7 separate regions of the Homo sapiens genome follow, and all the other regions are linked to region 1. Evidence: fine-mapped QTL for protein levels in blood plasma. A gene starts in region 1. Each other region holds a variant in brackets. All regions are shown on one strand. Distances are between the middles of the regions. Region 1 holds the start of PLA2G15 (phospholipase A2 group XV). Region 2 overlaps LRRC36 (leucine rich repeat containing 36). Region 3 overlaps PLA2G15 (phospholipase A2 group XV). Region 4 overlaps GFOD2 (Gfo/Idh/MocA-like oxidoreductase domain containing 2). Region 5 overlaps PLA2G15 (phospholipase A2 group XV). Region 6 overlaps SLC9A5 (solute carrier family 9 member A5). Region 7 overlaps TSNAXIP1 (translin associated factor X interacting protein 1).

What was found. PIP is the posterior inclusion probability: the model's chance that the variant is causal. Protein levels are from antibody-based Olink assays in UK Biobank. Linkage for the fine-mapping came from a reference panel and not from the study's own genotypes, which makes the PIPs less certain.
Region 2: its variant is fine-mapped to the plasma level of the PLA2G15 protein (UK Biobank, PIP above 0.99).
Region 3: its variant is fine-mapped to the plasma level of the PLA2G15 protein (UK Biobank, PIP above 0.99).
Region 4: its variant is fine-mapped to the plasma level of the PLA2G15 protein (UK Biobank, PIP above 0.99).
Region 5: its variant is fine-mapped to the plasma level of the PLA2G15 protein (UK Biobank, PIP above 0.99). The variant lies in the coding sequence of PLA2G15. If it changes the protein, the assay may bind it differently, which can mimic a change of level.
Region 6: its variant is fine-mapped to the plasma level of the PLA2G15 protein (UK Biobank, PIP 0.98).
Region 7: its variant is fine-mapped to the plasma level of the PLA2G15 protein (UK Biobank, PIP above 0.99).

What each region holds. Positions count from the first base shown.
Region 1 is chr16:68,243,607-68,247,670 of GRCh38, forward strand. It overlaps PLA2G15 (phospholipase A2 group XV), which reads left to right and starts at 1,767. Exons shown (of 6, transcript NM_012320.4): 1 at 1,767-1,947. The coding sequence starts at 1,821. RefSeq lists enhancers at 573-1,111, 2,233-2,733 and a silencer at 1,587-1,816.
Region 2 is chr16:67,331,917-67,335,980 of GRCh38, forward strand. All of the region lies in intron 1 of LRRC36 (leucine rich repeat containing 36), which reads left to right. Among named protein-coding and RNA genes, the nearest start is that of LRRC36, 7.1 kb to the left of the region's middle. The variant C/T (reference allele first, on the strand shown) is at 2,477.
Region 3 is chr16:68,258,915-68,262,978 of GRCh38, forward strand. It overlaps PLA2G15 (phospholipase A2 group XV), which reads left to right. Exons shown (of 6, transcript NM_012320.4): 6 at 232-2,144. The coding sequence ends at 743. It overlaps LOC124903704 (a long non-coding RNA gene), which reads right to left. Exons shown (of 3, transcript XR_007065096.1): 3 at 3,747-3,782. Among named protein-coding and RNA genes, the nearest start is that of SLC7A6, 3.6 kb to the right of the region's middle. The variant C/G (reference allele first, on the strand shown) is at 1,983.
Region 4 is chr16:67,704,797-67,708,860 of GRCh38, forward strand. The region is part of intron 1 of GFOD2 (Gfo/Idh/MocA-like oxidoreductase domain containing 2); the gene reads right to left. Among named protein-coding and RNA genes, the nearest start is that of GFOD2, 12 kb to the right of the region's middle. The variant G/A (reference allele first, on the strand shown) is at 2,494.
Region 5 is chr16:68,253,662-68,257,725 of GRCh38, forward strand. PLA2G15 (phospholipase A2 group XV) reads left to right here. Exons shown (of 6, transcript NM_012320.4): 3 at 1,258-1,376; 4 at 1,621-1,719; 5 at 2,105-2,329. Among named protein-coding and RNA genes, the nearest start is that of SLC7A6, 8.8 kb to the right of the region's middle. The variant G/A (reference allele first, on the strand shown) is at 2,272.
Region 6 is chr16:67,253,858-67,257,921 of GRCh38, forward strand. SLC9A5 (solute carrier family 9 member A5) reads left to right here. Exons shown (of 16, transcript NM_004594.3): 3 at 1,164-1,327; 4 at 1,536-1,614; 5 at 1,896-2,073; 6 at 2,612-2,832; 7 at 3,054-3,256; 8 at 3,488-3,577; 9 at 3,674-3,744. Among named protein-coding and RNA genes, the nearest start is that of SLC9A5, 6.9 kb to the left of the region's middle. The variant C/T (reference allele first, on the strand shown) is at 2,081.
Region 7 is chr16:67,814,436-67,818,499 of GRCh38, forward strand. The region is part of intron 2 of TSNAXIP1 (translin associated factor X interacting protein 1); the gene reads left to right. Among named protein-coding and RNA genes, the nearest start is that of TSNAXIP1, 9.6 kb to the left of the region's middle. RefSeq lists a silencer at 2,683-2,865. The variant C/T (reference allele first, on the strand shown) is at 2,362.

The sequences.
Region 1 (4,064 bases):
TCTGTAATCTCAGCACTTTGGGAGGCTGAGGCAGGTGGATCACTTAAGGCCAGGAGTTCAAGACTGGCCTGGGCAACATAGTGAGACCCCAACTCTACAAAAAATAAAAAACTAGCTGAGCTTGGAGGTGTACACTTGTAGTCCCAGCTACTCAGGAGGCTGAGGTGGGAAGGATTGCTTGAGCCTGAGAGGTCAAGGATGCAGTGAGCCGTGATTGTGCTACTGCACTTGGGTGACAGAGAGACCCTTTCTCAAAAAAAAAAAAAAAAAAAAAAAAAAAAGGAAAGAAAAGAAAAAGGGGCCGGGCACAGTAGCTCACGCCTGTAATCCCAGCACTTTGGGAGGCCGAGGCAGGTGGATCACCTGAGGTTGGGAGTTCAAGACCAGCCTGACTAACATGGAGAAACCCCGTCTCTACTAAAAATACAAAATTAGCCAGGGTGGTGGCGCATGCCTGCAATCCCAGCTACTCGGGAGGCTGAGGCAGGAGAATTGCTTGAATCCGGGAGACGGAGGTTACGGTGAGCCAAGATTGCACCATTGCACTCCAGCCTGGGCAACAAGAGCGAAACTCTGTCTCAAAAAAAAAAAAAAAAAGAAAAAGAAAAAGAAAAAAGAAAGAGGGAGGGTGGTGGTAGCCCAGTCACCAACATGTTTCACTATAAGAACTCGAGAAGGGCAGGGCAAGATAGTGGCTTCATAGCCAGGTCAGCTGCTTACCAAGAAGAAGGAAGGAAGGGGCAGGACAAATTTCTTGGGACCAGGTGGGATGACCAGGGTGCAGCTGCCCCTTCGAAGGGGTGGGTGTGTGGAGGATCAAGACCTCTATTTCCCAAATACTCTCGTCCCTCTATCCCACAGTGACCTATGGTGCTGGCATATAACCAGCTGTCAGGTCTTTGCCCACTCTGTTCGCCCCTGCTTCCTGGCGCAGGGAGTCCATGTCCTCTCTGGTTCCCCAGGTTTGCGAGAGTGGAGGGGGACCACGAGCTCCCGATGCCTCTCCTGCTCTGCAGGGGAACTTGCAGATGGCCCATGGCGCAGGGTCGAGACTCAAGCCCACTCCCAACCCCGCGCCCGAACTGCCCGGACTGGCGGGGTGACGCTGCACTCTGCGCCCCTAAAACGAACAGATTAACCCCTCTCTTGGGAACTGAACATGCTGACCTGGCCTCTCCCGGTTCCCCCCGCATCTGTAACCCCGGGGCAGAGTTACAGGGGCTGACTGGCCGCACCCAGGTGCCCTCGGGGCAGGGTGTGCTAAGAATTGGTGTGGGGGCTGCACAAAGGTCCTGGTCAGCTCCTGGTCACCTGAGGCCCAAGAACTGTCCGGGACTCACTTCCTCTCTTCTTGCTTTAACCGGGGTCGCTCAGCAGCGGCCAGCGCTGCACCCCTTATCCTCTCCCGGTCTTGTCCGTTCCAGATCCTCCAGGTCAGGGGGTCGCCAAGTGAGAGCTGCGCAGCGTGGATTTCGGGTACCCAGGGCTGGGCGGGGTACAGCAGCGGCGAGCTGGGTTCCCGGGTGGGCGACTGACAGCCCGGAGCCAGGCGATACCTCGATCCATCGATGCGCTCGGCGCTCAGCGTGGTCCAGGAAGCAGGGGGTTGGGCAAGGGCGGGGCGGCGACCTCCGACTGGGAGGGGCGTATATGGCGGCGAGTCCCTATTGGCCAGCCATTTGCGGGAGGCGGGCCCTGATTGGCCGGGGGGATGCGGGGGATGCGGGCGGCGGGGTTAAGCGCGTCGCCACCGCCCCCGCCTAGGCGAGAGCCCAGAGAGCTGAACCTGCATCCCGGACCTGCGGCGACCGTCGTACACCATGGGCCTCCACCTCCGCCCCTACCGTGTGGGGCTGCTCCCGGATGGCCTCCTGTTCCTCTTGCTGCTGCTAATGCTGCTCGCGGACCCAGCGCTCCCGGCCGGACGTCACCCCCCAGTGGTGCTGGGTGAGGCACGGGTCTCGTGGTGGATCTGTCGGTCGGGCGGGACGGGCCGCGGGCGGGGCTGCCTTCCCGGTCTGCTTCTGTTCCAGTCACGAAATGGGGGAGCGTATTGGTATCTGTCTTGTCACTTAGGTGATCTAGATCTGCCGGCTCACCTCCCGCCATGCTGGGCGCGGGTGTGGTCAGCTCCCCACCTCCTGTCCTGGTAGAAAATGGGGGTGAGTGGGAGAGTTACCATCTGGTTATTCATAGTTCCACCTGTCCGCATCATTCCCAAGCCTTGCCTCCCCTTATCCCATTTTTAAGCTGGAAAGACAGGTGCTTCAGCCCCACTCCTGAGGGATGGTGGGGGTGTGTAGAGTGGCTCCTGAGTTGACTTCTGCATCGACCTGGGCCTGGTTAGGAGGCTGTCACCCTCGACCCCTCCAATGCCACATATGCCAGAAGGCATTGCTGAAAGGAACCTCCTTAGGGAAAGGATTGCTGTCCTAGCTGGCCACCAACTCCCACAACTTATCAGATGTGTGGCATTGCCTGAGGGAAAAGGCCTAAGGGAAACTGAAGACAACTGAAGTCAGGGGAAAGGGTTGGGACAATGGCCATGAACCTGTGTCAGGCAACATGCTTGTACTCTTACCCTGCCACACATGCTTGGACTAGACTATGTGGAGGCTCGGTGACCTCCCCTGCTCACCCCGCTCCTTGATCACAACCCTGGCAACTCTACAACGGCCACTGTATTTCCTTGCAGGGATGGGCAGGGATGAGACCTCTGTCTGGGGGGCCTTGGGTGCCTCATTGAGGCCGTCACTCCCATCCAGAGCTGGTGTGTCCGTGGCCAGCCAGGATTCCTGAAAGCAGAGGCATCTGAGGCATGAATTACACGTGGAGTCTAGTGCAGCATGATCTCCATGCTCTTTCTGCTGAGAGTACTTTAAATGGGGACGATGCAAATCACAGAAGGGTAGAGTTGGCAGGTAGGGTGGTGCCAGGCAGGCCCCACCAGGAGTTCCCAGCCAGGAAAAGCTCCAGGGGGATACTAGGCCCAGGTTCACCATGGGATTTGGGCAGACTTGGCCCTGCCTCCCCAAAGCTTGCAGGATAGGAATAACAGTGATCCCCAGAGAGGAAGTCTGTGTGGGGCAAGCACAGAGAATCCACCAACCCAGCCTGGATGGGTGGGTGTCAAGTAAGGCTTCCTGGAGTATATAGCTGGAGCTAAGGCCAGGAGAGAGTAATGGGTCGGGGAGAGACGTGAGCATCTCAGGCTGCCTGGGATCGAGTCACAGGAGGAGTGGACTGCACAGGACTTGTGACTGGTTGGGTCATCTGAACTTTATCTTGAGGGCCTCAGGGAGTCCTGGGTTGGCCTGCAGAGTTCTAAGTCTGAGGGGCGTGGCATTAGGAAGCATGTGGTCTGTGGCACACAAAATGGCACATAGCCATTTTGCCTGGATTGATGCTAACCGCACTCATCAATTCAGTCAGTCTGTTTATCCTTGGTCACAGCAGAAGAGCCTCAGACCCCACCCAGAATCACAGAGCAGCAGGAGTCCTAACATGCCCAGCTTCTCAGGGAGTGAGGCTGCTGGCCTTAGCCCTGGGAGACCTCACGGTGGGCAGTTGGATAAGCAGCTCCTGGGCACAGAGCAGGGATCTGACCTTGACTGTCAGAAGATCAGAATCCTCTAGGGGTGGATCCTGAAATGGTGGTGGAGGAAAGAGAGACCAGCGATGTGATACAGAAGACCCTGGGCAAGGGGAAGGGACCATAGGCAAGGCCATTTCCACCTCTTGCAGCCTCAGTCTCCCCATCTGTTAAGTGGAAATAGTAAGGCTGTCCCCTCCCAGTGTTACTTGAGGTGAAAGGCATGTGGATGGCTCTTTTCCTAGTTCCAGGCGCAGATGGGCTCAGGAAGTGGCCACTGCTATTTTTAGGGGCCACACAGCCTGACCAGGGTAAGGAGCATCTGAGCAAAGCAGATCTGGTGACTTCCTCTTTTACCATTTCCCCTTTGGTAGAGACAGTGACCAGGGTCTCTGCCCTGCCCTGCCCAGTCCACAGGCATGTCATCCAGAGGCTGTCATGACAGGGACTCCCTCCCTCTGCACCCATACCA
Region 2 (4,064 bases), 910 kb before region 1:
GGCGGAGGTTGCAGTAAGCCAAGATCACACCATTGCACTCCAGCCTGGGCAAAGAGAGCGAAACTCCATCTCAAAAAAAAAAAGAAAAAGAAAAAGTTTTATTTATTAGAAACATTCATTGTCATTATAAATAAGCTTTGTTAAAGGTTGTTAATTCAATTTCCAAATGAGCTGTAAATGGTTTTCATTAGAGAGACTACTTGATTTGTTATTTTCAAATAGCAAATTTTTGCCCACTGGGGTTATGTAACCCATATATTAAAATTGGAAGATCATTCTTTTATTCTTGGCATCTATGCTGTGCAGTGTTTGATTTGTTCTCTGATTTGTCTTCACTCTTTATAAACACTGAAACGGCCAGGCGCGGTGGCTTACGCCTGTAATCCCAGCACTTTGGGAGGCTGAGGAGGGCGAATCACGAGGTCAGGAGATCGAGACAACCCTGGCTAACATGATGAAACCCTGTCTCTACTAAAAATACAAAAAAATTAGCTGGGCATGGTGGTGGGCGCCTGTAGTCCTAGCTACTTGGGAGGCTGAGACAGGAGAATGGCGTGAACCTGGGAGGCAGAGCTTGCAGTGTGCCAAGATGGTGCCATTGCACTCCAGCCTGGGTGACAGAGCGAGACTCCGTCTCAAAAAAAAATAATAAATAAATAAATAAACACTGAAACGAAATGCATAACCTCTTAAGACATGCATTCATGTGAATCATTAAAGAATGTTTGTCTTTGTGGCAGTTTATCATTTTAATAATTCACATTCCTTCTTAAAATGTTAAAATGTCTGCTCTTCAAAATAGACTGCAGTGAAAGGCATGAGAAATGCTGTGGGTCATTGATGGAAACCATAATTGTCCTTAGCTTTTGTCCCATGTTAACAGACTCTCAGGGTGTTAGATCATAACATACCACAGAATTACCAATACACTGCCCTCAAAGTCAGGAAAATTTTATTTATTTATTTATTTTATTTATTTATTTTTTTTTAAAAAAAACATGGTCTTATTCTGTTGCCCAAGCTGGAGTGCAGTGGCATGATCATGGCTCACTGCAGTCCCGACCTCCTGGGCTCAAGCAATCCTCCTGACTCTGCCTACTGAGTAGCTGGGACTACAGGTGTGCACCACCATGCCCAGCTAATTTTTTCTTTTTTTGTAGAGATGGGTGCATTTTAAAAAGATATAATTCACATACTATAAAGTTCACCGTTTTAGTATTTATTTATTTATTTTGAGATAAGAATCTTGCCCTATTGCCCAGGCTGCAGTGCAGTGGCCCGACCTCAGCTCACTGCAACCTCTATCCCAGGTTCAAGTGATTCTCCTGCCTCAGCATCCTGAGTAGGTGGGACTGCAGGCACGTCCCACCATACCCTGCTAATTTTTGTGTTTTTAGTAGAGACAGGGTTTCACCATGTTGGCCAGGCTGGTCTTGAACTCCTGACTTCAAGTGATCCACCTGCCTCCGCCTCCCAAAGTGCTGAAATTACAGGCATGAGCCACCACACGTAGCCCCATTTAAAAAATATACAATTCAGGGTCATTTTGTACATTTACAATGTTGTGCAAGCATCATTGCTACCTATATATAGTTCCAGAACATTTTCATCAACCCATTAGGCAGTCACACCTCATTTCCCACTACCCCTGGCTCCTGGCAACCAGTAAACTGCTTTCTGTCTCTGTGGATTTGCCTCTTCTGGGTATTTCATATCATTGGAATCATATAATATGTAGCCTTTTCTGTCTGGCTTCTTTGACTTAGCATAGTATTTTCATTATTCATTCATGTTTTAGCATGTATTAATACTTCATTCCTTTTTTAAAAAAATTAATAGACTTTATTTTTTAGAGCAGTTTTAGGTTTACAGAGAAATTGGGCATAAAGTACAGAGAGTTCTCATATACGCTTACCTTCCTTGCACCTCTCCCCACCCACCCCGTTTCCCTTAATTTTAATATCTTGCATTATTGTGATATATTACAATTTATGAACCAATATTGATGCGATTATTAACTAAAGTCCATAGTTTACATTAGAGCTCATTTTTTGTGTTGTACAGTTCTATGGTTTTTGACAATTATGTCGTGTCCACCATTATTATTATTATTTTTATTTATTTATTTTTTTGAGATGGAGTCTCACTCTGTTGCCCAGGCTGGAGTGCAGTGGCGTGGATCTCGGCTCACCGCAAGCTCTGTCTCCCAGATTCACACCATTCTCCTGCCTCAGCCTCCCGAGTAGCTGGGACTACAGGTGCCTGCCACTGTGCCCGGCTAATTTTTCATATTTTTAGTAGAGACCGGGTTTCACCATGGTCTCGATCTCCTGACCTCGTGATCCGCCCGCCTCGGCTTCCCAAAGTGCTGGGATTACAGGCGTGAGCCACCGCGCCTGGCCGTCCACCATTATTTTTTATTTTTTGAGGCAGAGTCTTGTTCTGTTGCCCAGGCTGGAATGCAGTGGCACGATCT[C/T]GGCTCACAGCAACCTCCGCCTCCTGGGTTCAAGTGATTCTCATGCCTCAGCCTCCCAAGTAGCTGGGACTGCAGGCGTGTGCCACCATGCCTGGCTGATTTTTGTATTTTTAGTAGAGACGGGGTTTCACCATGTTGGCCAGGCTGGTCTCGAACTCCCAACCTCAGGTGATCTGCCTGCCCCAACCTCCCAAAGTGCTGGGATTACAGGCATGAGCCAGCGTGCCTGGCCAGTCGTGTCCACCATTATAATAACAGTTTTACTAACCTAAAAATCCCCTGTGCCCCACCATCTGTTTATCCCTCCCTCACCCCAAACCCCTGACAACTATCAGGTGAAATTCACCCCCGATATTTCACGTAGGCTCTTTTCTATTTTCCCTAAGTGTCGGCCGGCCTGAGAAATAAAGGGACAGAGTACAAAAGAGAGAAATTTTAAAGCTGGGTGTCTGGGGGAGACATCACATGTCAGCAGGTTCCGTGATGCCCCCTGAGCCATAAAACCAGCAAGTTTTTATTAGTGATTTTCAAAAGGGGAGGGAGTGTACGAATAGGGGGTGGGTCACATAGATCACATGCTTCACAAGGTAATAAGATATCACAAGGTAAATGGAGGCAGGGCGAGATCACAGGACCACAGGACCGGGGTGAAATTAAAATTGCTAATGAAGTTTCAGGCACGCATTGTCATTGATAACATCTTATCAGGAAACAGGATTTGAGAGCAGACAACTGGTCTGACCAAAATTTATTAGGTGGGAATTTCCTCGTCCTAATAAGCCTGGGAGCACTACGGGAGACCGGGGCTTATTTCATCCTACAGCTGTGACCATAAAAGACATCTGCCCCCAAAGCAGCCATTTTAGAGGCCTCCCTTCAGGGATGCATTCTCTTTCTCAGGGATGTTCCTTGCTGAGAAAAAGAATTCAGCGATATTTCTCCTGTTTGCTTTTGAAAGAAGAGAAATATGGCTCTGTTCCACCTGGCTCACCGGCAATCAGAGTTTAAAGGTTATCTCTCTTGTTCCCTGAACATTGCTGTTATCCTGTTCTTTTTTCAAGGTGCCCAGATTTCATATTGTTCAAACACACATGCTCTACAAACAATTTGTGCAGTTAATGCAATCATCACAGGGTCCTGAGGCAACATACATCCTCCTCAGTTTACGAAGATGACGGAATTAAGAGATTAAAGTAAAGACAGGCATAGGAAATCACAAGAGTATTGATTGGGGAAGTGATAAGTGTCCATGAAACCTTCACAATTTATGTTCTTCTGCCATGGCTTCAGCTGGTCCCTCTGTTTGGGGTCCCTGACTTCCCGCAACAGACAACCACTGATCTTTTTTTTTTTTTTTGAGACAGACTTTCGCTGTTGTTGCCCAGGCTGGAATGCAGTGGCACGATCTTGGCTCACGGCAGCCTCCACCTCCCGGGTTCAAGCGATTCTCCTGCCTCAGCCTCCCGAGTAGCTGGGATTACGGGCATGTGCCACTACGCCCAGCTAATTTTGTATTTTTAGTAGAGACAGGGTTTCTCCAGGTTGGTCAGGCTGGTCTCAAACCCCCAGCCTCAGGTGATCCGCCCGT
Region 3 (4,064 bases), 15 kb after region 1:
ATGCCATTATACTCCAGCCTGGGCAACAGAGTGAGACCCTGTCTCAAAAAGAAAAAAAAAGAGCCAAGGCAGGGATGGGAGTCACAGTGATTACAATGATGATAACCGGGTAGAGATGCGGGACTGTGGACTGGGCCCCTGGCTGGGGTCTGGCAGGGGCCTGGTGGTGAACATGCTGCCCAACCAGCTGGCATTCCTAAGCACAGACTGACCAGAGCCTTCTCCCTGCAGGAGACAACAACCGGATCCCAGTCATCGGGCCCCTGAAGATCCGGGAGCAGCAGCGGTCAGCTGTCTCCACCAGCTGGCTGCTGCCCTACAACTACACATGGTCACCTGAGAAGGTGTTCGTGCAGACACCCACAATCAACTACACACTGCGGGACTACCGCAAGTTCTTCCAGGACATCGGCTTTGAAGATGGCTGGCTCATGCGGCAGGACACAGAAGGGCTGGTGGAAGCCACGATGCCACCTGGCGTGCAGCTGCACTGCCTCTATGGTACTGGCGTCCCCACACCAGACTCCTTCTACTATGAGAGCTTCCCTGACCGTGACCCTAAAATCTGCTTTGGTGACGGCGATGGTACTGTGAACTTGAAGAGTGCCCTGCAGTGCCAGGCCTGGCAGAGCCGCCAGGAGCACCAAGTGTTGCTGCAGGAGCTGCCAGGCAGCGAGCACATCGAGATGCTGGCCAACGCCACCACCCTGGCCTATCTGAAACGTGTGCTCCTTGGGCCCTGACTCCTGTGCCACAGGACTCCTGTGGCTCGGCCGTGGACCTGCTGTTGGCCTCTGGGGCTGTCATGGCCCACGCGTTTTGCAAAGTTTGTGACTCACCATTCAAGGCCCCGAGTCTTGGACTGTGAAGCATCTGCCATGGGGAAGTGCTGTTTGTTATCCTTTCTCTGTGGCAGTGAAGAAGGAAGAAATGAGAGTCTAGACTCAAGGGACACTGGATGGCAAGAATGCTGCTGATGGTGGAACTGCTGTGACCTTAGGACTGGCTCCACAGGGTGGACTGGCTGGGCCCTGGTCCCAGTCCCTGCCTGGGGCCATGTGTCCCCCCTATTCCTGTGGGCTTTTCATACTTGCCTACTGGGCCCTGGCCCCGCAGCCTTCCTATGAGGGATGTTACTGGGCTGTGGTCCTGTACCCAGAGGTCCCAGGGATCGGCTCCTGGCCCCTCGGGTGACCCTTCCCACACACCAGCCACAGATAGGCCTGCCACTGGTCATGGGTAGCTAGAGCTGCTGGCTTCCCTGTGGCTTAGCTGGTGGCCAGCCTGACTGGCTTCCTGGGCGAGCCTAGTAGCTCCTGCAGGCAGGGGCAGTTTGTTGCGTTCTTCGTGGTTCCCAGGCCCTGGGACATCTCACTCCACTCCTACCTCCCTTACCACCAGGAGCATTCAAGCTCTGGATTGGGCAGCAGATGTGCCCCCAGTCCCGCAGGCTGTGTTCCAGGGGCCCTGATTTCCTCGGATGTGCTATTGGCCCCAGGACTGAAGCTGCCTCCCTTCACCCTGGGACTGTGGTTCCAAGGATGAGAGCAGGGGTTGGAGCCATGGCCTTCTGGGAACCTATGGAGAAAGGGAATCCAAGGAAGCAGCCAAGGCTGCTCGCAGCTTCCCTGAGCTGCACCTCTTGCTAACCCCACCATCACACTGCCACCCTGCCCTAGGGTCTCACTAGTACCAAGTGGGTCAGCACAGGGCTGAGGATGGGGCTCCTATCCACCCTGGCCAGCACCCAGCTTAGTGCTGGGACTAGCCCAGAAACTTGAATGGGACCCTGAGAGAGCCAGGGGTCCCCTGAGGCCCCCCTAGGGGCTTTCTGTCTGCCCCAGGGTGCTCCATGGATCTCCCTGTGGCAGCAGGCATGGAGAGTCAGGGCTGCCTTCATGGCAGTAGGCTCTAAGTGGGTGACTGGCCACAGGCCGAGAAAAGGGTACAGCCTCTAGGTGGGGTTCCCAAAGACGCCTTCA[C/G]GCTGGACTGAGCTGCTCTCCCACAGGGTTTCTGTGCAGCTGGATTTTCTCTGTTGCATACATGCCTGGCATCTGTCTCCCCTTGTTCCTGAGTGGCCCCACATGGGGCTCTGAGCAGGCTGTATCTGGATTCTGGCAATAAAAGTACTCTGGATGCTGTAAGGTGCCCTGGCCTACATTCTGCTCTGAGCATGAGGGGAGGGAGGTGGTGGAGGTACAAGGTGGCTACAGAGGCAGGAAATTAGGGGCTGGGCCTTTACAGGAGCCTTGACAGGTTGTCTCAGCATCAAAGCATGGTTCCTGTGCCCTTCTGTGGACCTCATCCTCCTGTCCTCTCTCCTGGAATCCAGTTCCCTTCCTGGGACTAAGAACCAGAACCTGAAACATTCCTGTGGAAATGGGGTCCTGTCCTCCCCCTGCTCCTGCCTGGTCAGCAGGCCCCACATGCCACCCAGGAGCTGGGAGCAAGGACAGTCCTGCAGGTCACCCTGGCTACACCCTCCTTCCCAGCCTCTGTCCTCCCTCAGCTTGCAAGTGTCAGCATCCTTTGAACCTAGAGTTCTTTTTAGGATGCCACCCTTCTTTGCATCTTCAGCTCATCAGCCTGCCATCTGTACCCCTGGGGAGGTACAGATGAGAGAGATCAAGGGAGGAAAAGAGACTACTAGGCTGAGACTGGTATGGACAAAGACAGAAACAGAGACAGAGCCAAGGAAACATGGATAGGGGATAGGGTCCCAGCCTGAATTTTGTAGTCCAGAGCCCAGCCGGTACCCAGTTCTGTCTTAACTCAGCCCCACAAGCTGGGGCGCCAGACTTTGATACACCAGGGGCCACAAGAGGGCGCCCTGAACCCTCTCACTGAACCACCTGTTAGCCAAACCTGGAAGGACGAGGTGACCCAGAGTGGGGGTAAAAATGCCTGTGGTAAAAATACTGGGGTCCAGCTGCAGCTCTGGCCTCAGTAAAAGGATGACAACATGAAAGGGAGCTTCACCCCAGGCCCTGCCCAACCTGACTCCCTGCTTGGCCCTGACACCCCCCTACTCATGGCACCCCACTCATCCCTGACCCATTTTAGCTTCACCATCACCCTCAGTTTCATAGCTGCAGAGAGAAAGGGCATGGAATCAGAGGAGGCTTAAGGATCAGCATACTAGGGTTCAAATCTCAGCTCTACTAGCTCCAGCCAAGTTGTCTGGGGAGCCTCCTGACCCTCAGTTTCCTCATCCAAAGAATGGGGACATCTGGGTGCATTGGCTCACGCTTATAGTTCCACCTACTCAGGAGGCTAAGGTGGGAGGATCGCTTGAGCCCAGGAGTTTGAGACCAGCCTGGGCAAGACTTTATCTCTAAAGGTGAAATAGGCCGGGCGCCATGGTTCACGCCTGTGAGCCCAGCACTTTGGGAGGCCAAGGAGGGTGGATCACATGAGGTCAGGAGTTCAAGACCAGCCTGGCCAACATGGTGAAACCCCATATCTACTAAAAATACAAAATTAGTCAGGTGTGGTGGCACATGCCTTGTGGTCCTAGCTACTCTGGAGGCCGAGACAGGAGAATCACTGGAACCTGGGAGGCGGAGGCTGCAGTGAGCCAAGATGGCACCACTGCACTCCAGCCTGAGCAAGACAGAGCGAGATACATCTCAAAAAAAAAAAAAAAGATGAAATAAATCTGTAGTCCCAAGTAGGAAGCTGAGGCAGGAAGATCGCTTGAAACCAGGAGTTCGAGGCTGCAGTGAGCTATGATCACACCTGTGAATAGCCATTGCACTCCAGCCTGGGCAACAGCAAGATCTCTAAAAGCAAAAGAAAAGAATGGTTACAAATAAATGTATCCTGCAGGGTGGTCCTGAGGAACACTGATGGTGTTGGAGAACATCTGATTCAGGGTGTGGTGTACATTGGGCTTTCAGCTGATGGGCTACGTAACTGGGTATGAGACTGCAAAGCCAGACGGAGCTGGCATATGGTGTTTTTTTTTTTTTTTTTTTGAGATAGACTTTCGCTCTTATTGCCCAGGCTGGAGTGCAATGGCGCGATCTCGGCTTACTGCAACCTCTGCCTCCTGGGTTAAAGCG
Region 4 (4,064 bases), 540 kb before region 1:
CCAGTTCTCTTTCTAGGTGCTCAGGGATCATTTGTTTGATGAGATGTTCTTGCATAGTTCTGAGGAATCACCAGCATCAGGCTCAAACATCACAGACATTGTGTATCGCTTATCATCTGGCACCTGCCTCTGCTCCACAATGCCTCAAGGCTTATTGACAGTAGTTTATGGAGTATATCATGGTCAGCTGCTACTTTTCTGAGACCCGTGGGATGTAATTCAAATTGATCAGAGGAAACAAACCCACTGGGCACTGGGTATGCTACCTTCCCTGCACATGGTCCTTCCAGCTGGGTCTCTGATGAAAGAGAAATATAGGAGTTGAATAGTTGTTTTCCCTGCCATGGTATCCATTATTCATCCTAAATACCTCTCAGTATATCTTCAAGAATACTTTTGATCACCTGCCAGTTTTTTCTTTTCTTTTTTTAGACACAATCCCACTTTGTTGCACAGGCTGGAGTGCAGTGGCATGATCTCAGCTCACTGCAACCTTCGCCTCCCAGGTTCAAGCAATTCCCCTGCCTCAGCCTCCCAAGTAGCTGAGATTACAGGCATGTGCCACCATGCCCAGCTAATTTTTGTATTTTCAGTAGAGACAGGGTTTTGCCAAGTTGGCCACGCTGGTCTTGAACTCCTGGCCTCAAGTTATCCACCCATCTCAGCCCCGCAAAGTGCTGAGAACACAGGCGTGAGCCACTGTGCCCAGCCTACCTACAGGTTTTTTCAAGTGTCATTACTTGTTCTGGGATTGTGTCTCCCCGATCCTATTAGCAGCAGTGAGCTAGCTCTTCAGAAATTTATAGATGAATGGAGCCTGGGTGGTTCCATCCAAGCTTTTAAAAAATGTACCTGTAATAGGCTGGGTGTGGTGGCTCACACCTGTAATCCCAGCACTTTGGGAGGCCAAGGCGGGCGGATCACTTGAGGTCAGGAGTGCGAGACCAGCCTGGCCAACATCGTGATACTCCGTCTCTACTAAAAATACAAAAAATTAGCTGGGCACGGTGGCAGATGCCTGTAGTCCCAGCTACTCAGGAGGCTGAGGCACGAGAATCACTTGAACCTGGGAGGCGGAGGTTGCAGTGAGCCGAGATCACGCCACTGCACTCCAGGCTGGGCAACAGAGTGAAACTCTATCTTTAAAAAAAAAAAAGTGCCTGTTATGGTTTTCCCTGTGATTTTTTTTTTTTTTTTTTTTTTGGAGACGGAGTCTTGCTCTGTCACCCAGGCTGGAGTGCAGTAGTGCAATCTCAGCTCACTGCAACCTCCGCCTCCGGGGTTCAAGCAATTCTTCTGCCTCCTGAGTAGCTGGGATTACAGACGCGTGCCACCACGCCCAGCTAATTTTCATATTTTTTGTAGAGATGGGGTTTCACCACATCGGCCAGGCTGGTCTTGAACTCCTAACCTTGTGAGATCTGCCTGCCTCGGCCTCCCAAAGTGCTGGGATTACAGGTGTGAGCCACTGCGCCTGGCCTGACCATACTTTTTTAAATTACAAAATATGCTTTTTATTTCTCAGTGCTGGGCTTTTAAAAAGAGCCATTAGAGATTTCTATAGACAAAGTTACAGCCTTGTAATACTATCTTTACCCTGCAAGTCACACAAATGCGGTAAACTGATTTTCAGCCAAAGCATTAAATCAATTCAATGGGGAAAAAAATTCTTCTTAAGAAATGATGTTGGAACAATTGGATATCCATATGGCAAACAACCTTAACCCCTCTCTCTCACTGTTATATGCAAAAATTAATTCAAGACAGATCAAAGACCTAAATGTAGAAGCCAGAACCATAAAGCTTCTAGAAAAATACATCAGAGAGTACTTTTTGAAATCATGGGGTAAGGATTTCTTGGACAGGACACAAAAAGCACTAACTCATTGAAAACTGGATTTCAAAATTTAAAATAATTTCTGCTCATTAAAATACATCATTAAAAAAATGAAAATGCAAGCCACAGGTTGGGAAAAAATATGAGCTGAATATATATGTAACAAAGGACTTGTCTGCAGAACTCCAACAAATCAGCAGATGATGAGGTCAGGAGATTGAGACCATCTTGGCTAACACATGGTGAAACCCCATCTCTACCAAAAATGCAAAAAAATTAGCCAGGTATGGTGGTGGGCACCTGTAGTCCCAGCTACTCGGGAGGCTGAGGAAGGAGAATGGTGTAAACCCAGGAGGTGGAGCTTGCAGTGAGCCGAGATCGCACCACTGCACTCCAGCCTGGGCAACAGAGCGAGACTCCATCTCAAAAAAAAAAAAAAAAATGTCCGGGCGCAGTGGCTCACGCCTGTAATCCCAGCACTGTGGGAAGCCAAGATGGGTGGATCACCTGAGGTCAGGAGTTCAAGACCATCCTGGCCAACATGGTGAAACCCCATGTCTACTGAAAATACAAAAATAGCCTGGTGTGGTGGTGCATGCCTGTAATCCCAGCTACTCAGGAGGCTAAGGCAGGAGAATTGCTTGAACCCAGGAGGC[G/A]GAGGTTGCAGGGAGTGAAGATCGCGCCATTGCACTCCAGCCTGGGCCACAGAGTGAAACTCCATTTCAAAAAAAAAAAAAAAAGACTTACAATCCTGAAGTTTGGAGAGGATATGCGGCAAATGGAACTCCCATACATTCTTGGTGGGAATGTAAAACAGTACAACCACTTTGGAAAATTGACAGTTTCTTATAGTTAAACATATATCAACCCAATCACAGCAACTCCACTTATAGATATTTATCTAAGAAAATAAAAACATAAGTCCACAAAAAAAATTATACAAATGTTCACAGCAGCCTTATTCATAATGGCCCCACACTAGAAACAAATGTTCACATCATAAATTATGATGTCACACAATGGAATACAGTAAAACAGTAAAAAGGAATTAACTATTAATGAATTTTTTTCTTTTTAAAAATTTTATTAATTTTTTTGTAGAGATGTGAGTCTCACTGTGTTGCCCAGGCTGGTCTCAACCTGCTGGCCTCAAGTGATCCCCCTGCCTCAGTCTTCTAAAGTGCTGGGATTACAATGAACCACCTCGCCTAGCCTGTATGAATCTTAAAAACATTATGTAGAGTGAAAGATGGCAGGCCCACACACAGAAGACCCATACTGTAGAATTCCACTTTTTTGAAATTCAGGAATAAGCCAGCCTTATTTATAGCAACACTAGTCAGAAGGCGGCAGTGGCGGTGGTGGCTGAGGCGGAGGGAATCGAACAGAAAGAGGCACAAGGCTACATTCTAGAGTGATGGAAATGTTCTGTATCTTGTTTGGTGCTTGGGTTACATGGTGGTACAACTGTCAAAACTCATCAAATTGAATATTTAAGATCTGTGTTTTTAATTGTATGTAAATTATACCTTAATTTTTAATCACCTTAAGTAGTTGTGCCCAAGGACATAGAACAACCTGTTCACACCTTGCAAATTCAGTTCTGTAATCAAACTAAATGGATATGTGTGAATTAGAAGTCTCTTTCCTTTAAAACAAAACAAAAAAACCTGTAAGCTTACTTTTGGGGACATCATCGGTACAGGCTGGGGCCAAGAGAATAAGTTTTCTGAGAAAGAAACTTCAAGCTAAGGCCCAGTAGGCTGGTGAATCCCAGCACTTGCTGAGCGTATCTGAAGATGGCACTTTTCCCTGGGCAGTGTGTCACACTGGGTGAGTGGCTGAGCTCCAGATGTTAGGAAGTCCTCACCACTCATGAACAACTCATACTGAGGAAGGGAGGGTTCAAAAGGGGTTCTCCCGTATCATTTCTGGCAAGCAAATTTAATGATGGCTATTCATAGAGCATTGGTATGTATCAGTTTGCAGTTGTAGCTATACAGGTTGGGCAATAAGACTTGGCACTGAAAGAGTGGCAAGCCCTCACTTAGTGTCAGCCTCCACTGTGCCTCAAGGGCCACTCACCATGAGACTAGCCCCAGATCCAGCCCCACACCTTCCAGAGCACTGCATCCTGAGAGGCACCTCCACAGACTTGATGCACACCTCTGTCCCCTCAGGCACATTCCAAAAGGCCAGTGTCAAGACCCATACTGTAGAATTCCCT
Region 5 (4,064 bases), 10 kb after region 1:
CCTGTGCCTGGCCTAGTGTGTTTTGTTTTGTTTTTTTTTTTTTTTTGAGACAGGGTCTTACTTTGCTGCCCAGGCTGGTGTGCAGTGGCATGATCACGGCTCACTGCAGCCTCAATATCCCAGGTGCAAGTCATCCTCCTGCCTCAGCCTTCCAAGTAGCTGGGACCACAGGCCTGCACCACCATGCCTGGCTAATTTTTTATTTTTAGTAGCAACAAGGCCTCACTGTATTGCCCAGGCTGGCCTTGAACTCCTGGCCTCAAGCATTCCTCCCACCTTGGCCTTGCAAATTGTTGGAACTACAGGTGTCAGCCACTGCACCCGGCCCCTGTCTGGTTCTGTTGTGTACTGCACTCACCACCTCCTTCACCTGGGATACGTTGGGCTGGCAGGAGCTGGATGCAAGGAGATGGAGCGATGGAAAGCTGAAAGAGGGTAGACTGCCTCTTGGGGTCCAGTGTGAAGTTCACGGCAGAATCAGGACTGGTACTTCCTTCTCCCAACCAGGTCCAAGACCCTCATTCTAGAGTAGGGTCACGGGGGAGAGGGGAATGTTGCTTTGACAGGGGTCCTGGGGTCAGTATTTGGAGTAAGTATGCCTTGGTGGGGTCCTCATTTGGATGTAATTACTCTGATCTGTGCTTTTTATTTTTATTTATTTATTTATTTATTTATTTATTTATTTATTTATTTTTTTGAGACAGAGTCTTGCTCTGTCGCCCAGGCTGGAGTGCAGTGGTGTGATCTCAGCTCACTACAACCTCCGTGTCACAGGTTCAAGCGATTCTCCTGCCTCAGCCTCCTGAGTAGCTGGGATTACAGTCGCCTCCCACGACACCCGGCTGATTTTGTATCTTTAGTAGAGATGGGGTTTCGCCATGTTTGTCAGGCTGGTCTCAAACTCCTCACTCAGGTGACCTGCCAGCCTCAGCCTCCCAAAGTGCTGGGATTAACAGGCGTGAGCCACTGCACCTGGGCAATTTTTGTATTTTTAGTAGAGACAGGGTTTCACCATATTGGCCAGGCTGGTTTCAAACTCCTGACCTCAAGTGATCCTCCCACCTCAGCCTCCCTAAGTGCTGGGATTACAGGTGATCTGTGCTTTATCAACCTGCTTTGTTACTTTTCGGTCTCTCCTATCCATCTGACCAAACCTGGGCATGAGAAGGGAGTATGACTCAGGACATGATGCACTGTTGGGACACACCAAGCTCAGTGTCCCCTCCGGGTCACTGGCTCAATATCCTCTCACAACAGGCTGGTTTACAACAAAACATCCAGGGCCACCCAGTTTCCTGATGGTGTGGATGTACGTGTCCCTGGCTTTGGGAAGACCTTCTCACTGGAGTTCCTGGACCCCAGCAAAAGCAGCGTGGGTATGTAGCCCTTACTCAAGGCCTCCGGGAGCTGGGATGGGGTTTCTGCCGGACTGGAGCTGGAGCTGGAGGAACTCTGCTGGTTTGTAGGGACAGCCTGTGAGCTGTCTCTGATCAGCGTGGGCACAGAGCCCTGTAGCATTCTTCCAAGGACCTGCTAGCTGTCACAGTCTCCATGCTGGGCATAGTGTAGGTGGCCGGCACTAGCTGTATCTTTTCTTATCCTCTGTATTTCTGTCTACAGGTTCCTATTTCCACACCATGGTGGAGAGCCTTGTGGGCTGGGGCTACACACGGGGTGAGGATGTCCGAGGGGCTCCCTATGACTGGCGCCGAGCCCCAAGTAAGCAGGCACTCTCATTCCCTCCCTGACGTCTCGGGAGGTAGGGGTGAGGTGATCATGGGCACCACAGACCTTGGGCTCTCCCCTTGTCCTTGGCTGTCTCCTGTCCCTGGGCCTCTGGCATCCAGTCTAGTGGTCACAGCCACCACCTTTGGTCAGTCTTATCCTGTCCTCCATTTCCCACCCTGGGACCTCTGGGCCTGTGAGCCCTGGGGAGAAATATAAGGCTTCCTCCCTTCATGGAAGGCGGGGGGACCCAGACCGCTCTGTTTGAATGTGAGCACCCTCCCCTCCCCCTCTCGTCTTGTGTCTGGCCTGAGAAAAGCTCAGTGGTTCCGGCTCCAGGACCCTTCCCACCTGACCCCTGCCTGGCTCTGGCCTGCAGATGAAAACGGGCCCTACTTCCTGGCCCTCCGCGAGATGATCGAGGAGATGTACCAGCTGTATGGGGGCCCCGTGGTGCTGGTTGCCCACAGTATGGGCAACATGTACACGCTCTACTTTCTGCAGCGGCAGCCGCAGGCCTGGAAGGACAAGTATATCCGGGCCTTC[G/A]TGTCACTGGGTGCGCCCTGGGGGGGCGTGGCCAAGACCCTGCGCGTCCTGGCTTCAGGTAAGACCCTACCTGGCCCAGCGTGGGGGGCTGTTGCCAGGAATTCTGCCCTCTCTTCCCTTCCTAAGTGTCCTCCTGGGCCAGCATGCCTCGTGTCTGTCCCACGGTGTGTGGGGTCTATGCAAATCTACCCCTAAAAGTCCAAAGAAGAAAGAGGCTGACAAATCTAGTTTCTCAGAGAAAAGCATTTAATAGGGACATACGAATAGAAGCCACATCTGTGTCTCAGGTGGGGGCAAGACAAGATGGTGGATCCCCACACTATTAGCCCCCAGACCCAGAGCTTATATTCTGTAGGGAAAGGGCGACTCCGATGCGATGTGTTGAACATTGAAGGATGATAACACAGAGGCTGTTTTGATTTATGGTTAAGTACGTGCACAAGAAACAGTAGATAAAGTGGAAATCTCAGTGGCCTTCCTGGATCTGGGGTTAATCAGAAGCCAACATGGTGGATTAGTATCCAAAATGGAGTTGCTTTGGTCTCCACAATGACTATTCTCTTGGGTCAGCCCTGTTTTTTTTTTAATTTTTATTTTTTGAGACAGAGTCTGGTTCTGTCACCCAGACTGGAATGCAGTGGTGCAATCTTGTCTCACTGCAACCTCTGCCTCCCGGGTTCAAGCGATTCTGCCTCAGCCTCCTGAGTAGCTGGGATTACAGGTGCCCGCCACCATGCCTGGCTAAGTTTTGTGTTTTAGTAGAGATGAGGTTTCATCATGTTGGCCAGGCTGGTCTTGAACTCCTGACCTCAGATGTTCCACTCGCTTCGGCCTCCCAAAGTGCTGGGATTACAAGTGTGAGCCACTGTGCCTGGCCATCCCTCCCTCTTACCCCATCCTTACTTCTTCATCCCCACCTTCACCGCAGAGGAGGAAGGCTAGAGCATTTTTTTTTTTTTTTTGGAGGCAGGGTCTTTCTCACTCTGCCATCCAGGTTGGAGTGCAGTAGCGTGATTTTGGTTCATGCAACCTCCACCTTCCAGGTTCAAGTGATTCTCCTGCCTCAGCCTCCCGGGTAACTGGGACTACAGGCGCGTACCACCACACCCGGCTAATTTTTGTATTTTTAGTAGAGACTGGGTTTCACTATGTTGGCCGGGCTAGTCTCTAACTCCTGACCTCAAGTCAGGAGGATCTGCCTGCCTCAGCCTCCCAAAGTGCTGGGATTACAAGCATGAACCACCGCACCCGGCCAGATTTTTTTGTATTTTTAGTAGAGATGGGGTTTCACCATTTTGGTCAGGCTGGTCTTGAACTCCTGACCTCAAATGATCTGCCCACCTTGACCTCCCAAAGTTCTGGGATTACAAGGATGAGCCACTGCACCTGGCCTCTAGACTACAGTTTTTTATTTATGAGTTGCGCCTCCATCTGTGGGCAGCACGGAGCCTCTGTAGGCAACACAGGGAGGAAGCAGGTGCAGATCTGGCTGGGCCTGCTTGCCTGGCAATTGGGAAAGCCACCCCTTTTATGGCTCCTCCCCCGTCTTTTCATGACTGTTGCAGCTCACCAGCTGCAGCTGTAGAGTAGAGCTTCTTCCTCTAGAAGGGAGCTTTCCTCCCTCTGCTAGGACTTGGGGGAGGCTTATGGACCCTCACTTTGGGAGCTATGAGCCAGGGCTGTGCCAAGCATCTCATGAGCTCAAGTGCCTGCCACTGCTTGACCTGCTTGGTCTACTGGCATTGTGATTGGGTCAGGCCCAGTGACTCTGAGTTGGCTGGAAGACACTCAGA
Region 6 (4,064 bases), 990 kb before region 1:
TTGCCCTCTCTTGCTACCTTCTTTATTTCCTAACCCAAGAAATTCATTCAACCCTGAAGGTTAATGATTCACACTTTTTCCAAGGTATTACAAGAAAACGTTTACAATTGCTACCTGGGACTCTAACCTGGTTTCCCTATTGAGGTAGTGAACTATTTGGGGCAGGAAGGGAAGGGAGGACATCAGATCATAATAACAGTAATAGATAATAATATCTTTTGGGTGCTTACTATATGTTAGGCATTGGCTAAGGAACTTTTTGAGGTAGATATTGTTATTAGTCTCAATTTAGACATGGGGAAACTGGGGCTCATAGAAATTATATGACATATTCAAGTCCGATCTGTGTTGCTTTTCTTACTATATTCAGTTCTCCACACCTGCTGAGAATTGTGTCACATCCCTTTGGCCGGGAACCACAGGTGTGGGAGAAAGCACTCTCTTTTGTTATTCCCCCTAATAAAAATAGTTAGCAGCCAATTTCCATTTGCTGGTAGTTATTATTACTGTTGCTACAGTGCTTTTTCCCTATTTTATTTTATTTATTATTATTTTTTGAGACTGAGTCTCACTGTGTCACCCAGGCTGGAGTGCAGTGGCACAATCTCGGCTCACTGCGGCCTCCGCCTCCCTGGTTCAAGTGATTCTCCTGCCTCAGCCTCCCAAGTAGCTGGGATTACAGGCCTGCACCACTGCGCCTGGCTACTTTTTGTATTTTTAGTAGAGACAGGGTTTCACCATGTTGGCCAGGCTGGTCTTGAACTCCTGACCTCAGGTGATCCAGCCCACCTCGGCCTCCCAAAGTGCTGGGATTACAGGCATGAGTCACTGTACCTGGGCTTTTTCCCTATTCCAAATGGCTGGGTTGAGTTTTGAAACAATCTTGTGAGGCAGGCAGATGAGGAGGCATGGCTAAGGTGAGCCACATGACAGTGACGGACCAGCATCACACAGTTGGTAAGTGGCAAAGCCAGACCTTAGGCATAGGTAGCTTGACTGAAGTCTCCTGATCTGCAGGCTAATGCTGTCTTTGCCATCCCAAGTCCTCTTTGGGCTTCCTTGCTGTTATCAGCAGGGGTGGGGCCTGGGCTTGTTCCAGGGCGTGCTCCAGGAGACTGGGTCGTCTTCAATGACTGGCCTGTCCTACACATGTCCCTTAATAGCCCCTAGGGTGCAGGCTGGCTTACTGGACTTCCTGCTGTTTGGGAGCCTCATCTCGGCGGTGGACCCCGTGGCCGTGCTAGCTGTCTTTGAGGAGGTGCACGTCAATGAGACTCTCTTTATCATCGTCTTTGGCGAGTCCCTGCTCAACGATGCTGTCACCGTGGTGAGCGTGCTCAGCTGACTGCCATTCCCTGACCCCAGGCTGCATGCTCTGACCAACTAGGGGTCTGCGCAGACTCAGTCCCTTCCCTTGGGTCCCCTGGGGCAGAAATATGCTGTCTGCTTTCACCCTGCTCTCCCAGCAGTCTGTCTCCCAGCAGTCCCAGTTGCTGCCTTCCCGCCTCACTGCTGACTCTCCTCTTCTCGCTCAGGTGCTGTACAAGGTCTGCAACTCCTTTGTGGAGATGGGCTCTGCCAATGTGCAGGCCACTGACTACCTGAAGGGAGTCGGTCAGTATTTCCCCGCTCCCAGCTGGCATTGGAGGTCTGCCTCCCCTGGGTTGCTGAGGCCCTCCCACCCCGCATCAGGACAGAAGAGGCTATTCGGGTTGCCTCATCTCCTCTATAGAGAAATGGGGTCTGGGAGGGGCTTGCCAGGGATCCTGGCTCTGGGGTTTTGAGCCCCTGGGAGTGCGGTGGGCATCATCCCTCACTCCCTGCCAGGCAGCAGTCTTGTCAGCCCGGGTAGGGTCCGGGCCAGGGGTCATGCTGACAACCCACTCCTCCCCCAGCCTCCCTGTTTGTGGTCAGTCTGGGCGGGGCAGCCGTGGGCTTAGTCTTTGCCTTCCTCCTGGCCCTGACCACACGCTTCACCAAGCGGGTCCGCATCATCGAGCCGCTGCTGGTCTTCCTCCTCGCCTACGCAGCCTACCTCACTGCTGAAATGGCCTCGCTCTCCGCCATTCTTGCGTGAGTT[C/T]TGGGGGCCTTGCAGGCAGATAGCTGGGAGGGGGCACTGGAGATGGTTGCCCCTCATAGGGACACAGGCAGGAACTTCAGGAGTCCATAGGTTTCCCTGAGCCCTTGTGGTAGTGGGAGCCTCAGACTGTCCTGGGGAGTCAGTAAACCTCAGCAATATTTCAGGAGCTGCCCCCAGAGCTGTCCTCAGCACCCTGAAACCCTCTGGGTGTAGGCTGGGCTGGAAGTAGACTTTAAGGCCTGGGGCCACCAGCTCTGGAGGCCGCAGCACTCCAGAAGGTGCATTAGAGAGCCCGCTAGTCAGAGCACGTTCCTTCCACCTTCCCTTCCAGGAGACACTGAATGGGAAGCCTGGAGATCTGGACTCTTAGCCCAGCACTACCATTCAAGTCTTCAGGCCTCCCTGGGCTTCAGCTCTGAGAGTCTGACATCCTGTAATGGGCAATGCCCCCTCCTGCAGTATGCTCAAACCCTGGAGGCTGAGCCCCCTGGAACCCTTCCCCACTTGCCATGTCTCTCCATCCTCTCCCAGGGTGACCATGTGTGGCCTGGGCTGTAAGAAGTACGTGGAGGCCAACATCTCCCATAAGTCACGCACAACTGTCAAATATACAATGAAGACTCTAGCCAGCTGTGCTGAGACCGTGATCTTCATGCTGCTTGGCATCTCAGCCGTGGACTCTTCTAAGTGGGCCTGGGATTCTGGGCTGGTGCTGGGCACCCTCATCTTCATCCTGTTCTTCCGAGCCCTCGGTATTGCTGGCACCCTCTGCTTTCCCACTCTCCTTCCTGTCCCGCCCCTCCCTGCAGCTCATCTCCCTATCTGAGTCCACATCTTTGTCAATTCCTAAGCCTCCTCTTGTTGCTCACCTGTCCCAGCCCCTGTTAGACCTCAGCCCAGATACTTGGTCCCATCCGGTCCCACGTCCTCCACTCCCAACGCTTTGCTCCCACTGGCCTCCCTCCCGCTGTAGGCGTAGTCCTGCAGACCTGGGTGCTGAATCAGTTCCGGCTAGTCCCTCTGGACAAGATTGACCAAGTGGTGATGTCCTATGGGGGCCTGCGGGGGGCTGTGGCCTTTGCTCTCGTCATCCTACTGGATAGGACCAAGGTCCCTGCCAAGGACTACTTTGTAGCCACCACTATTGTAGTGGTCTTCTTCACAGTCATCGTGCAGGTGGGAGTGCCCACAAGGCTGGGTAGGGAGAGGGTTGGGCAGGCCCTGGGGGAGTCTTGGAGCCTGTGGGACAGGGGCTTCTCTTCCCGCTGGGAGATGGAGGGCCCTGACTTCCCAGACCTTGAGTGCAGTGGGGTAGGGGTACTGAAGCTGAAGCCTCATTACGGGGAGAGAAAGGCAGCAGGGAACTGAATAGGAATAGGGCAGGGCTCACCTCCTGCCTGTCCATAGGGCTTGACCATCAAGCCACTGGTCAAATGGCTGAAGGTGAAGAGGAGTGAGCATCACAAACCCACCCTGAACCAGGAGCTGCATGAACACGTGGGTATCAGAACCCCAGCCCTCGCCTGTCCCTCTCGACCTTCTCCTATTTTGGGCAGAGTCCTGATCCAGTCCCCCTACCCACCCCCCTTCTAGACTTTTGACCACATTCTGGCTGCAGTGGAGGACGTTGTGGGGCACCATGGCTACCACTACTGGAGGGACAGGTGAGGGAGCTGCCCCGAGGCTCCTTCAGCAGCAGCAGCCCCACCAGCCAGGGAAGCATGGGGGATGTGCCACACTTCTGAGAAGGGACAGAGCCAGGTTCAGGCTGGGTGACCTCTGCCTGAAGCCCTTCAGTGGCATCCCAGTGCTCTCAGGTTAAGACAAGGCTCCCCAGTGTGGCCTGCTTGGCCCTGCATGGTTTGGCAACTGCCAGACTCCAGCCTCATCATGCTCTGCTCTGTCTTTGACTGTCTGCCTGCTAATTCCATGGACCCTGTCTTAGATCCTCAGGACCCACCATGCTCCCCCAGCCTGGCCACTG
Region 7 (4,064 bases), 430 kb before region 1:
CAGCCCCCAGACCCTATCCGTCTCCCTTCCTGCAACCCAAGAGTACCACCCACCTGAAACATGCCCACCTGAAACATGCCCACCAGAGTGGCTTCTTCTCAGTTAGAGAGTGTGGCTCAGAGAGGCCAGGCCCACCAGGCTTTGGGGAGAAGGGTGTACACTGGCTGCCTGCTCCTTATCTGAAAAGCCTTCCCGGATCTCCCTAGGCAGAGAGAGAACTCGCCTCTGCCCACAGACATCCCTCCCCAGCAGCTCAGCATTCTGCAGCGGCCCTTACCTCTCATCCCTCCCGCCAACACACCAGGCACTGTGCTACCTGCTGGGACGGTCACACCAGATCTGCCAAGGTCCTTCATGGCTGTGACTGTATCTTTCTATCTTTATGGCCCTAGAATCTAACAGGCTACCTGAATGTCTGCCAAATGTTGATAGCTCCATAATTGCTGAGTAGGTGTGTGAAGGCAGGAGGAAAGAGATGCGTCTCTACCATGTTCACTCCGGATCTCTCCGCCATTCCTCTTTTTTAAAGTTTGTATATAAAAATGAATGCTGTACCAAAGGTATCAGAAGAGAAATGAAATTTAAATTAAAAAAAAAAAGAGCCGGGCGCAGTGACTCATGCCTATAATCCCAGTACTCTGGGAGGCCGAGGCAGGCGGATCACCTGAAGTAAGGAGTTTGACCAGCTTGGCCAACATGGCGAAACCCCATATCTACTAAAAATATAAAAATTAGCCATGCATGGTGGTGCATCTGTAGTCCCAGCTACTCAGGAGGCTGAGGCACGAGAATTGCTTTAACCTGGGACGTGGAGGTTGCAGTGAGCCGAGATCACACCACTGCACTCCAGCCTGGACAACAGAGCAAGACTACATCTCAAAAAAAAAAAAAAAAAAAAAAAGAATGCCATCTTTTTTTTTGAGACAGGCTTTTGCCTGTCAGGGTGCAGTGGTGCAGTGGTGCAGTTATGGCTCGCTGCAGTCTCAAATGCCAGGGCTCAAGTGATCCTCCCACCTCACCCTCCCAAGTAGCTGGAACTATAGGCACATGCCACCATACCCAGCTAATTTTTTTGGCAGGGGGGGACAGAGTTTTGCTCTGACACTCTGGCTGGAGTGCAGTGGCACAAACACAGCTCACTGCAGACTCCACCTCCCATGCTGAACCAATCCTCCCACTCAGCCTCCTGAGTAGCTGAGACTACAGGAGTGCGCCACCACACCTGGCTATTTTTTGCATTTTTTGTAGAGGCAGAGTCTAACTACGTTGCCCAAGCTGGTCTTGAACTCCTGGGCTCAAGCTATCCTCCTTCCTTGGCCTCCCAAAGCACTAGGATTACAGGTGTGAGCCACCACACTGAGCTCAATACTGTTTTTTTTTTTGAGATGGGGTCTTGCTCTGTCACCCAGGAAGGAGCACAGTGGCGCGATCTCGGCTCACTGCAACCTCCGCCTCCTGGGTTCAAGTGATTATCCTACCTCAGCCTCCTGAGTAGCTGGGATTACAGGTGCACACCACCATGCCCGGCTAATTTTTTTTTTTTTTTTTTTTTTGAGACGGAATCTCGCTGTCGCCCAGGCTGGAGTGCAGTGACGCAATCTCGGCTCACTGCAAGCTCCACCTCCCAGGTTCACCCCATTCTCCTGCCTCAGCCGCCCCAGTAGCTGGGACAGACGCCCGCCAACACACCTGGCTAATTTTTTTTGTATTTTTAGTAGAGATGGGGTTTTACCGTGTTGGCCAGGATGGTCTCGATCTCCTGCCCTCGTGATCCGCCCGCCTCGGCCTCCCAAAGTGCTGGGATTACAGGCGTGAGCCACTGTACCTGGCCCCAATGCTGTCTTATTAAGTACTTTTGGGCTCTTGTTGATATGATCATAGGATTGTTATTAATCAGCAAATAGCCATTGTCCAAATCTCATAAAGGAAAAAACACATTTGAGTAAACTTACAACTCTGGCTCACAGTGGAACAGCATGGGCTGTATGGTGGTTTTCCTTCTGTGACCCTGACCCTCGTGGGGAATTTGGAAACACATGGGCCACACACTTTGTGGGGCTGGGGACTCCCAACACCCCTGCGGGAGTGACTCCAGGGAGGAGAAAGGAGGGGTCAGTATGGATTATTCGCAGAGACCAAGCGCAGCCCAAAAACCTGATGACTAGGGGAGAGCTCTGAGGCTCCCGGGCACCCTTCTCAGCTGCCACCTTCTGTGGGCCAGGCTTTTTCATTCTTTCTTTTGCGCGGCATCAACCACCAGGGGGCAGTGTTCCCTCCCGCCGTCCCTCCGGGGCCGCCTTCCCGTTTTTACCTACAGGGGGAAGCAGAGAGCACGGAGCGCCCGGGAGCACTGCGTTCCAG[C/T]CACCCGGGCGGAGATCCCTCAGCTGTTAATAACCTAGCCGAGACCCGGCCCTGGCAGCTGGTTCTCCAGCTTCCACTCGCCTCTGCAAGCAAAGGAGGGTAGCCACATTTTCTCCCGGTAGAAACAGTAGACAGAACACGAGGACTGGTCTTTTTTTTTTTTTTTAATATTAATTAATTTATTTTTTGAGACGGAGCCTCGCTCCTCGCCCAGGCTGGAGCGCAGTGGCACAGTCTTGGCTCACTGCAACCTCCACCTCCCAGGTTCAAGCGATTCTCCTGCCTCAGCCTCCCTAGTAGCTGGGACTACAGGCACGTGTCACCACACCTGGCTAATTTTTTGCGGTTTTTTTTTTGTTTTTTGTTTTTTTGAAACAGAGTCTTGCTTTGTCGCCCAGGCTGGAGTGCAGTGGCGCGATCTCGGCTCACTGCAAGTTCCGCCTCCCGGGTTCACGCCATTCTCCTGCCACAGTCTCCTGAGTAGCTGGGACTACAGGCGCCCGCCACCGCGCCCGGCTATTTTTTTTTTTTTTTTGTATTTTTAGTAGAGACGGGGTTTCACCGTGGTCTCGATCTCCTAACCTCGTGATCCACCCGCCTCGGCCTCCCAAAGTGCTGGGATTACAGGCGTGAGCCACCGCGCCCGGCCATTTTTTGCGTTTTTAGTAGAGACGAGGGTTTCACCGTGTTAGCCAGGATGGTCTCCGTCTCCTGACCTCGTGATTTGCCCGCCTTGGCCTCCCAAAGTGCTGGGATTACAAGCGTAAGCCACCGCGCCCGGCCAAGGACTGGTCTTTTACAAGTCTGAAAAACGGCCGGGCGCGGTGGCTCACGCCTGTAATCCCAGCACTTTGGGAGGCCGAAGTGGGTGGATCACCTGAGGTCAGGGGTTCAAGACCACCCTGGGCAACATGGTGAAACTCCGTTTCTACTAAAAATACAAAATTTGCCGGGTGTGGTGGTGCGTGCCTGCAGTCTCTTCGGGAGGCTGAGGCAGGAGAATTGCTTGAACTTGGGAGGTGGAGGTTGCAGTGAGCCAAGATAGTGCCACTGCGCTCCAGCCTGGGCAACAGAGTGAGGCTCCGTCTCAAAATAAATGAATAAATAAAAACAAATAATAAAAAATAGTCTGGGCCGGGCGCAGTGGCTCACACCTGTAATCCCAGCATTTTGGGAGGCTGAGGTGGGCAGATCACTAGGTCAGGAGTTCAAGACCAGCCTGGCCAACATGGTGAAACCCCATCTCTACTAAAAATACAAAAATTAGCTGGGCGTGGTGGCATGCGCCTGTAATTCCGGCTACTCGGGAGGCTGAGGCAGGACAATCACTTGAACCCAGGAGGTGGAGGCTGCAGTGAGCAGAGATTGTGCCACTGCACCCCAGCCTGGGCGACAGAGCGAGACTCAGTCTCAAAAAAATAAATAAATAAAATTCTGAAAAACAAGGCTGGCTCACACCTGTAATCCTAACACTTTGGGAGGCCAAAGAAGGAAGACTGCTTGAGACCAGGAGTTTGAGACCAGCCTGGCAACACAGGGAGATTTCATCTCTACAAAAAAGATTTTTTAAATTAACCAGGAATGGTGGTGTGCCCATGTAGTCCTAGCTACTCAGGAGACTGAGGTGGGAGGATCTCTTGAGCCCGGGAGTTTGTAGTTACTGTGAGGTGTTATTGGGTCACTGCACTCCAGCCTGGGTGACA